Regions from separate parts of the Homo sapiens genome. Here region 1 is linked to region 2. The links come from fine-mapping of genetic effects on gene expression. Tissue or cell type: prefrontal cortex. Region 2 holds a variant in brackets; the other region holds the start of a gene. All regions are shown on one strand. Distances are from middle to middle. Region 1 holds the start of ATOSA (atos homolog A). Region 2 overlaps ATOSA (atos homolog A).

Evidence for each region. PIP is the estimated chance that this variant, and not a neighbour inherited with it, causes the effect.
Region 1: ATOSA starts here. The variant in region 2 is fine-mapped to the expression of ATOSA in prefrontal cortex (BrainSeq, PIP 0.90).

Annotation. Positions count from the first base shown.
Region 1 is chr15:52,676,289-52,681,675 of GRCh38, reverse strand. It overlaps ATOSA (atos homolog A), which reads left to right and starts at 2,288. Exons shown (of 13, transcript NM_001385016.1): 1 at 2,288-2,848; 2 at 3,554-3,670. The coding sequence starts at 3,655. It overlaps LOC105370821 (a long non-coding RNA gene), which reads right to left and starts at 2,071. Exons shown (of 4, transcript XR_932255.4): 1 at 1,983-2,071. RefSeq lists a silencer at 2,353-2,672 and enhancers at 3,253-3,392, 3,523-3,592.
Region 2 is chr15:52,656,119-52,661,505 of GRCh38, reverse strand. All of the region lies in intron 2 of ATOSA (atos homolog A), which reads left to right. Among named protein-coding and RNA genes, the nearest start is that of ATOSA, 21 kb to the left of the region's middle. RefSeq lists an enhancer at 2,234-2,423. The variant A/TA (reference allele first, on the strand shown) is at 2,934.

The DNA.
Region 1 (5,387 bases), 20 kb before region 2:
AGAGGGTAAGGTTCCTGCCAGCTATCTTGATTCCCTTGCTTACCCTTACCCTTCACCAACTAGGAACTAGAAACATTTGTTCTGTTTATGTGCTCTGAGGTGTGAACAGAGCACCTTAGAGTGAATTGCCATTTCAAGTCATTATTTCCAAACGCTCTGAACATGTGTTACATAATCATAGGATAAAAGAAAGCGATAACTATTGTCAGAGTCTAAACACCTCACTTTTATAGGTGAAACAAAGGTGTTAGAATGTGACTTGATTAGGGCCATGTAACTGTAATAGTACTATAAGCTCCTTGAAAGTAGTGACCCTATCTGGTTTTGGTGACCTTTACATTCTCAGAGACTTGTATGAGCCTAGCAGGTAGTATTCAGTAAATGCATATTATGGAATGAAACAATTTGAATAATGAGTCAGAAATACACCTTTTAAATACTTTTTCTGCTGCCATAATGATTTCAAATTTTTGAACAGGTTTAAGATTCTAAATTTAAAAAAACTTCAGGTTAGTCTAACAAATGTTGACATCATCATTTACCCAAGTGCTGTTAAAAATTATTTAAAAGAGAATAGTTTGTGCTACACACTAATAGTCTTGGCTTCTGCTCTCAACATTTCCTGGTCTTTTTACCTCTTTTGCATTAGATAGAGGAAGAAAGAAGCTAAACCAGATTTTGCTGCCTGTTCACCCAGTAAGCCTTTTACAATAGCTGTTATTTGGTCCCAGCTGTTGTGCTAAATTTAGGTTTTTGGCTTATCTGTAACTGTTCTGTCTCCCATTACCAAGTGCTTGTAGAACAAGTAAAACTTCAGTTCATTTTTTAAAAACTACATAATACAGTATTCAATAATATCAAAGTCAAATCCACTGGGATTTAACATTTGTAGCATTTTATAGATTAAAGAACTGTTTCCATTTGTCAGTTTCATCGTCATGATGCCAGAACATTTCAGAGAAAATGAAATGTTACCCTCCTGAATGTTCTCTCCGCTCTGATTAGATACAATCGTGGAGTTAAGGTTAACAATTTCAGTTGTACATGTTATTTTACTGTACATATCTAAGCACTAGAAAATGTTACTTTTTAAATATTTCATGCCTTTTTCATAAGAACTTTACCTGAGGCCAAAAAAATGGAACTGCCAATCTTGCAGTTTATAAAACTCTTCTGATGTGAAAATAATAGACTCATTGTAAAAAAAATTTTAAAACAGAAGGGCACAAATAAAAAAAATCCCCTTAGACTTGTCCTAATACTTTCCTGTGATCCTTTTATGCAAAATTATATCTAAAAAAAAAACTTTTTCTAATGAAACCAAAGAGCCTTGCAAATTTTTACTTGTCTCCATTTGGGCTCATGCCCCATATGTACTTTGTCTATAGACTGAGTAGCTAATAGCTGCAGCGCTTGTTAGGATTGGGTTTTTTTTTAAGTACAGCAGATTCCTGTCATCTGTTTGTGTTTAAATGACGACAACATCACAACATGAAATGCCATCATGTCACATTGCTATAGCACAACAACAAAATTACAGCTCCCCAACAATAACATGCTGTCAAAGTGTCCTCCTGCCCATGAGTCAGTGTTTTAGAAGTTATGAAGATTATTTTTAGCACAGCGAGTGTCTTGGAAGCTTGGGTTCTGAATCCTACTAAAATCCTTAGTGATTTGGGAAAATCTAGGGTGGGGGTGGGCTTCCTGTTCTTAAATTCTCCCACTCCCTGACCCGCATAGCTGCCCACCCCCCGTCCCGGTCACATTAAACCCGGGTTCCATTATGCGCTGCAATCCACTTGGGGCTCGATCACAACTCTGTGCCAGCATCCCGGGAGGAGGAGGAGGAGGAGGAGGAGGGGGGGAAGGAGGGGGAGGGGGGAGGAGGAGGAGGAGGAGGAGGAGGAGGAGGAGGAGGAGACGACGACTATAATTATCCTCCACGTCTGGGGCAGGCCTTTGGATGACATCTCCCCAGTTACCCTGCGCTCTAATAGCGCAGCTCCGATTCCTGGTCTCAGAATCCAGGCGCGCCTCTGCCGGCTGGGAGCGCAACCGAAGTGCCTGGGACGTCTCGGGCTTCCGGGACTCTGCTGGTGTCTCCCAGCCGCCATCTCCAGCGCCCTCGCACCCGCCGGGCACCTGCACCGAAAACCCGGCCCCAAACTAGCGCCCCGGGGCGAGCGGCGGCATTGCCATAGTAACCGGGCGCCAGGGCCGCGGAGGCCGCCGGGGAGGAAGTGACGACCGGGGTGGGTTGGCTGTTGTTGGGACACGTGACCTAGGCAGTGTTTTGACAGGGCAAACAGCAGAGAAAGAACTGGCCGAGCGAGGGGGACGGGGAGCCGGGGCGCCAGAGCTAGAGACAGCGGGCGGGCAAGGAGCTGGCAGAGGCGCTGGGCAAGAGGGCCGGCCGGGGCTACGGGCGGGGGAAGCCCGGGGGTCGCGGGGCTCGGGTGCCAGTCAGGCAGGGCGGAGGGGCTGAGCGCAGGGAGCGGAGCGAGGCGGTGGCTGAGGCGCGGGTGGATGGCCACAGGGGCGCCGGGGAGCCGCTTCGGGCTGGTCGTCTCGGGTCCCCACGGTCACCTGAGGCAGCCGCGGGGGCCGCTGCGCTCCATACTCCGCTCCCGCTGGCCCTGCGCCTCTCGGAGCCTGGGGTCTGAGGTGGGAGTGTGATGTGAGCTGCTGGGCGAGCGGTGGAGAGAAGTGCCAAGAGGAGGCGGGATTGGGACGGGAGAGGAGAGCGAGTTAGTCAGCAGAGGTCGGCCGAGGGAGCGGAGGAGCCGGCCAGCTCGAGAGCGCCATGAAAACAACTCTCCAGCGGGGAGAGGGGCAGACGCGGCGCTCGGTGCGGCGGGGCTGAAGGAAATCCGGGGCCGCGGCGGGACGGAAGGGGTTGTGCAGAGCAGGGGGCGAGCACAGGCTGTAAACACCTCCCCCGGAGCCGGCCGCGGAGGACTGGTTGGGAGTTGGTAGGGTCGCCCCGGGACAGCCCGGAAGAGTTCGTTTGGGGCTGGGGGCTGGGCGGGAGGAGGTGACTCGGGTTTCTGTGTAAACTTGGCCGCGGTTGCCGCAGGAAGGCTAGCCAGAGGGTAATTACACAGGTGAGGCCCGGCGGGGCGGGCGGAGGGCTCGGGAGGCGCAGGGGACTGGAAGAGTTGGCTGCGCCCAGGCACCAGGTGGAAGAATTTCCATACCAGCCCTGCGGAGGTGCCTCTGTTTCCAGAGGCGTTTTTGTACGAAGGGGTTAGTTTGTGTTGCTCAAATCTTTTTCTTCTTCTTGCCTGTACCTCCAGGTTATAAATAGATCCTGTTTTGGTTCAGAGACTGTGTCAGAAGGACACATTGGCCTGGAGAGCACAGAGGCAGGGAAGGGGGTGCTCGATCCGGAGGAGATGGGGGAGGCGGTGCAGAGAGTTTTGCTTTTTTCAGACCAGCCGAGGGTGCTGTCACCGCAGTTGGTGCCAGGAAGAGGCCTAACTTAACAGTAGTTTACTTGCAAGGTCCGGGTATTAGAATAGGGCCAGATTAATTTTATTTTTGTCTCTTTCAGCATTTTGAAAGCGAAGCAGAAGCCGTAGAATCAGCGGCGAGCCTGTTGAAAGAACCCACAGGTGCATTTCACAGCACTCTGGGCGAAAATTGGATGTGAAAATGAAGCCAGACCGAGGTAAATGATTTGTTTAAGTAGGGCTTGTTCCCCCACCCCCTTCTTTTCTATGCCTCAATTTAGAAGTGTTAACCTAATTCTGCAGTAGGATCAACTATTTCTGTATCATATGTGATTATCTGTTTTTGTGACAGATTCCAGCTGGTGAGGTAGAGAAAGGCATATGGAAGAGAAGGTTAAGCGTTTTTACAAAAGTGCTTCTGAAGCACTAGCTTCAAGAGAGATTCTAGTGTATCTCAAAATGAAAGTAAAGAATGGTATTTGTATCTGTTGCCACAATACAGGTATCATTTTAGAGTTGTACTTGCTCGTTTTTAGGTAGTCAATCTAACTTCAACTTTCAAGAAGTTCATAAGCTTTTTAAACTTGAATGTGAACTTGATAAAATGAAGAGAAAACTTAAGCTTGAGTTGACAACTGTTATTTTATTACTACTTTGATTAGTTGATTTTTGTGCTTTAAGCAAACTCCAAAAGTTTGCAGAGTACTCCAGTATTCAATATACCAGCATATGGACAGTTTGGGCCACTGAAATCCCTGGTGATAAGTAAATGTCACTTCTTTTCTAAACCTGTATTTTCAGGATTTATAAGAATAATATATACACTGCTTTTCAAGGACTTCAAGGTAATTCTTTATCAGTCTTCTGATTAATGGCAAGAACCAATTTTAGAAGATGTTAATATAGTAGTGGTTAGTAGTGAGAGCTTTTCAGTCAGATATGAGTTTGATTCCAAGGAACATTGTGAAGTGGGGATTATTTTATTTGGTAGGGGGCTGGACTAGATGACAGATTTCCTTCCAAATCCAAGTCTTTAGGATTGGAAATGTTAATTTATCCTACGAATTAGATGCTTATTTTAAAATTTATATATATTAAACTGGTTGTTTTTCCATATATTTTTTCAAAGTGATTAGACAAATTTTCTGGGTAAAATAGGTCTATTGAAATGCACCAGAAGGAATTGGAGAAAACCATACTTAATTTAGTGATTTAAATTAGTTTTAGGTGTTGGCTATTACATACAATCAGGCAGCAGCTATGTATGTATCAAGTATTAGTAAGTGTATTGCTCCTGAGCAGGTTCCTTGTGTAGAATGCCAAGTTTAGATTTTTAGATTACATCAATCACTTTGGAAAAATGGCACCAAGGTTAGTAATTGATTCTCAGAATAAACAAGCAAATAAAATCAAAGTCACTATTTATTTTGAATTGTTGTGAAAAGTTGCTTTACAGTCATAAGCAGTTTTAAAAATAGTATTTGCAGCCAAAACTAGTGTTAAACACAATAAAATGTTTAGTTACGTACTGATATAGATTTTTAGGGGAAACAAATTTATTCATCAAGATTTCCAAAGAAGTTTTCACCTTAAAAATTGTAGCTTTCTTTAGCATTCTCAGGTAAAGATGATGGGATTGTGAGTTTAGTATTGTGATTATATTCCATAATAATAACATAAACCTTTAGACCCATGGCTTTTTTTTTCTTTTACTAAAACCAGTGTAAGTAATCTTTTACTTAGCAAACTAGTACAGAAATATTGAAATAAGCTTTTCACAAACGTACTTACCCTTACTGTGCGCAATGTAATGTTGTATTTTCTATTCTATTTCACGTTTTGAAAAATTGCTGTCACCACCCATTGAATTGATTTCTTCACCAATTAATGGGTCATGATGACCTGCAATTTGAAAGGCAGAGTTATGGACAACTC
Region 2 (5,387 bases):
TTTCTTTCATTTTTACAGTTGAGAAAATGTAAGACCCAGAGAAAAGCAACCTGTCCAACTAAAAAAGTAAAACTCAAATTCCCTGCTAGTTGCTGGAATATTTTCTGTATTTTGTATTACTTCATGCCTCTAGCAGAGCACAATTGCCTCTAGGTTCTGGCACCAGAAATGAAATAATGATCATCTGGCTTTTATCAGGAAACTGGAAAGAAACAGGCTAGGTGATTATATTTTGACATTGTTCTCAAAGTAATACATAGATACTCTTAGAAGTAAGTCGAATGGTAATAAGTAGACTCAAAGTAAATAAGACATTTCATCCTTGAAACTAGGAAGCTGAGAAAGAGATGGATATAAAGAAATAAGAAATTAGAGATAATTGTCAAATTAAATCAGGAAATGGTATAAACTAATTATTTAGAAATATAGAGGACAATTTTTTTCTTTAGTTTCAATGTGTAAAAAATGAGGCTAGTGATAATACCTACTTAAAGGGCTACTGTAATGAGGAAATGAGATAATCCATATAAGGTGCTTAGAAAATAGTATTTAGGCCAGGCACAGTGGCTCACGCCTGTAATCCCGGTACTTTGGGAGACCAAGGCGGGTGGATCACCTGAGGTTGGGAGTTTGAGACCAGCCTTACCAACAAGAAGAAACCCCATCTCTACTAAAAATATAAAAAAATTAGCTGGGATTGGTGGCCCATGCTTGTAATCCCAGCTCCTCAGGAGGCTGAGGCAGGAGAATTGCTTGAACCCGGGAGGCGGATGTTGCAGTGAGCCAACATCGAGCCATTGCACTCCAGCCTAGGCAAAAAAAGCGAAACTCTGTCTCAAAAAAGAAAAGAAAATAGTATTTGATTCTGAATAAATACTCAATAAATTTGCCTGTTGTTATTGTTAATAAATTAGCATTTCTTCAGTGCGTAAGATAAACACATTCCAAGTGCGCTGAAGGAAATATACGAAGGCTAAGAGAGTGACTAAGTGAGAGCAAGGAGAAGTCCTCTTTGGTTAGGTAAGGCCCCTGAGAAAATGAGCAGAGGATGAGAAGGCACCAGCTGTGTAAGGGGAAAGAACATCCCAGGCCAAAGGTATATGTGCAAAGGTTCTGAATTTAGAAAGAGTCTGGCATGCTTTAGGAACTGAAAGAAGGCCAGGTACTATATGATAGTTTGTGCTTCCCTCATTTCTTCATATTATACTGTCTCCTTCACTAGAATAATTGTTCTTCAAGGGTGGTGATGACATCTGACTTCTTCCCAGCTGTTTTCCTCATACCTGTCACAGGTTGGCACAGAATTAGTATTTATTAGATGCTTGATAAAAAATTAAGCGCCTGTTGCTTGCTCAACAACTACTATGTAAGTTCTAAGATATCATAATTTTATTTTTGGGCTTATATCAGTGAGTTTCATGAAATACAAAATTCACGCTTAAAAAATTTAACATATTTAACTGTTTTATATCTCTAACTGTACCATTAAGTTCAAACTACTTTGATGGGCTGGGTTAAATGCTACATAGGATGATCCTGGTTTATGCCTGTTGTCCTGTGTCCAATCCTATTTCACAATGGTCTCCTTTCACTCTAAGTGTGTTACCACTGTTTGGATCATGAATTTTACTTTTTTATTTTTTTAATATATATTTTTTTCTTTTTAGAGACAGGTCTTGCTATGTTGGCCAAGATGGTCTTGAACTCCTGGCCTCAAGCAAACCTCCCACCTCAGTGGGCAATGAATTTTATGATAACCCTAATAGTCATTTTACTGTTCTGCTAGTGCACTCAAGTCTTGTCTTTCATTAACTGGTATTTCATTCTGTACTTAGATAGCTTAAATATAGATTAAAATAGCTCATTTGCCCCAGCTGTGTTTTGTAGGATATTGCATCTAATATTTTGTAATTTACATGGGTCCTTGTATGAAATCAAGGGATTGACAACATGGGATGCTTGTTTTGATTTAGTACAAAACACTTGGATTTTGTTTTAGAAATGCTCTATTTCTAAAATGTTTCTACCAAACACCCATATTTTGACAAAATGTTCTTTTTCAAAGTGATAGGAATTCTTATGAATATTTCCTTCTGCAATAAACAGTTGTGATTATATAGTCATATTGGTTAAATATGACAACATTTTAGAATTTAACTGTTAGAAATAGTAAAACCTTAGACATCTGGACCATTCTCCCTCTCTTGTTCACTGAAACAAGTATAACCAAGCACTTTCAATGTGCCTGGCACATATGTGCTAGAAGTACTGTGATGAGCAAGAACTAACATGGCCTCTGCCCTCAGAAACTTGTGGTTTGAAAAAAACAAGAAACAAAAAACAAAGTCCTTTCTTCCTGGGGCAACAGGTGAATCAGAAGCTGAGGTTACCCTATGATGTTTTAGAAGAGCTGGGGGTTGGGGGTAGGGGAGCTGGCCCAGAGGAGTAAGAGAGTATCAGATGGCCCGTACAAACTTACAGAAATTGTACACTCTACTATCCCTTTCTTTTTTTGTTTTTTGAGACAGGTTCTTGCCCTGTTGCCCAGGCTGGAGTACAGTGGCTTAATCGTGGCTCACTGCAACCTCCAGTTCCTAGGCTCAAGCAATCCTTCTGCCTCAGTCCCTGAGAAGCTGGTACTACAGGTGTGCATCACCATGCCCAGCTGATTTTTAACTTTTTTTTTTTTTTTTTTTTTTTTTTTGTAGAAACGAGGTCTCACTCTGTTGCTCAGCCTGGTCTTAAACTCATGTCCTCAAGCAATCTTCCTGTATCAGCCTCCTAAAGTCTGGAATTACAAGCATGAGCCACCATGCCTGGCCTCCACTATCCCTTTCTGTTTGTGGTGGTCTCCTATATTTTGAGTTTGAATGGGAAGGGAGCATGCATGTTTGATGGTTTGTTTTGTTTTTGTGAATGAAGAATGAAAATTT[A/TA]TTCCCATTAAGTGCGAGCTTCAATTGAGGCACTCAGTTTATGAGGTCTTACTGATGTTTCCTCTCTTAGGTGCTGTAGTTAAAATCTTGCTGGTCTAAAATGGTGAAAACTATTGAGGTATTCAAATGATAAGTACTTTATAAACTGAAATTGCATTGAAAACGGAGAGCTCTTGACAGAAAGGTTGACTCTAGCATTTATATAAGGAAAAAGACAACTATTATCTCCCTCTACACAGAAAGCTATATTCAGTAGTTATAGGATTTGTACATTGTGAATCCTTAGGGATCTCTAAACATCTGTGTCTTTAGAAGTAGTGTCACCTCTAGTAAAAGAGGGCCAGTAGAATTGAGTGGTGGCAGCCTGTGATGTATATGAATTTTGGCTGTACGTCTCTAGCGACTATTTTCTCCAACTCTATTTAGTAAAATTCTACCTAATTTCAGCTATTGTGCTTCCAAAGTCCATGTTTGTTGAATATGATATGGTAAAAACCAATATCTATTTGGAGACAGTGGAGGGGATGGTAGTAATTGAGAGACAGTGTCAGATGGAGCAGTGACTTTACAATTTTTTTGACTGCAATCCACAATTAGACATTTCACATTGCTCCCCCATGACAACATCCCTATCGACCCCTGCCCAAAAACAAGTTATTTACCAATCTTGCTATAAGCAATGATGACTGATTTTTTCTTTTTTCTACTTTATTTAAAAAGAAAATTATAGTCTCAACTCTTTATATTAATTTTACACACATTAATTCTACAGATTGTTTTAGCACTTAGAACTAAAAGTGTTCAAGATTTGATTTTGTTACCTTCTCTGTGTAAGCTAAAGTTGCTGACTTTTCTGAGTTTCCATTTTATTGATTAAAACTGGGATAGTAATAGTATTTTACACCATTTTATAACTTTATTAGAATGACATAATCTGAGTGAAGTGGTTGTGCCAGGCACTTACTAAACACACAGTCAATGAGTATGTTCTCTCCGAAGTTTGTTAGCTTAGGGAATTGGGAGGATGCCACTGATAATAATGGTGACTCTTATTCAGAGGAAAACTAATTCAGTTTTAGACATGCTAGAGTTTGAGGTAGCCAAAAGAGTTTAGTCATATCACTTGGAAGCAAACCAATGTGAAATAGTTTCAAATAAGCAAATTTTAAAAAATGTTAAATGCAAAGCAAACAGTATTAAAGCTTTGGGGACTTAATGATTGAGTCTCCTTACACCTACACAAGATTGGCTAAATACACATACAACTGTGTCACTCTACCAGATTTCTGTTAACATTCTCCAGAATTTAAACTGCAGAATCAGTCATTTGTATGACTGTTTGTCTCTATTAGCAGAGGTAATGACATGTATCAGTGATAGGTAATTGTGGAAAAAAAAACAGCACTTGGAATTAAACCTAGAGTTGGTGATTCTTACAGGGTAACCCAACGGCTACCTTAATTTCTATGATTCAGTTTCTTCATCTACAAAATATTATTTCACAAAGTTGCAGTTGTCAAAGGGACAAGTAAATATGGGATCCATTGTCTTCATGGAAAAACTTTTCATAAAATGTTATTTTATTATAATAAAAAATGTGTGATTGGTTTTCAATTTCAGATTGAATCAAACATAGCATTCTTTGTAATAGCAGGAGATTAACAACATCCCAGAATATATCTTTAAAAGAAGTATGGATAAAGAAAAACCCGTATGCACCTCTGCACACATTTTATGTAATAGTGGTGATACTAATTTACAAAGACAAAGTATATAGGATATTAAAAGTGAATTCTTAATACCTGATCTTGATTCTTATTAAATCTGACTTATGTGTATACAAGATATTATTAGATGAAGTGTTTGTCCAGTAGCTTAGCTTATAAATAACCCCCATTCTAGCTCATTTTAAACAATGTAGTATGAATGATGCCAAAAACAGGCTAGAACATTTTCTTCTTTCCAAGATCTTAGATTTGGTAAACAAGCTACTGCTCCTGGAACTAATCTAGGTCATCATAACCCAAAATCTTTTGAAATATGAGAGTCCCAATTAAGTCTCTTAGGTACTTTTTAGCATTTTAATTTTAAGAATGTGTTTAACTCTTAAAACAGTATATTTTGGTTGCTGTTTGGCCATTTGGTTTATTTGTACCTTGTTATAATGAATGCAAGTCAGTGGGTAATCATTGCAGCAAATATGATTGCTAGGAATCTCATGTAAGTGGAAGTCAATATAATGTATGGCTTAATTTATCCCTGAACTGACCTAACATCACATTTTGTTTTTTAATAAAAACTGGTTTAATGATATGATAAATTTCTGTATTTTCCACAACTGTTAATAATGTTATATTTTAACTATTGCTTAGTCTTCATTACAAATTATTCAGCTGTTAAATGTGTTGTTCAATGTGACATTATTTAAAAACTTAAAAAAAAATCAGCTTCACA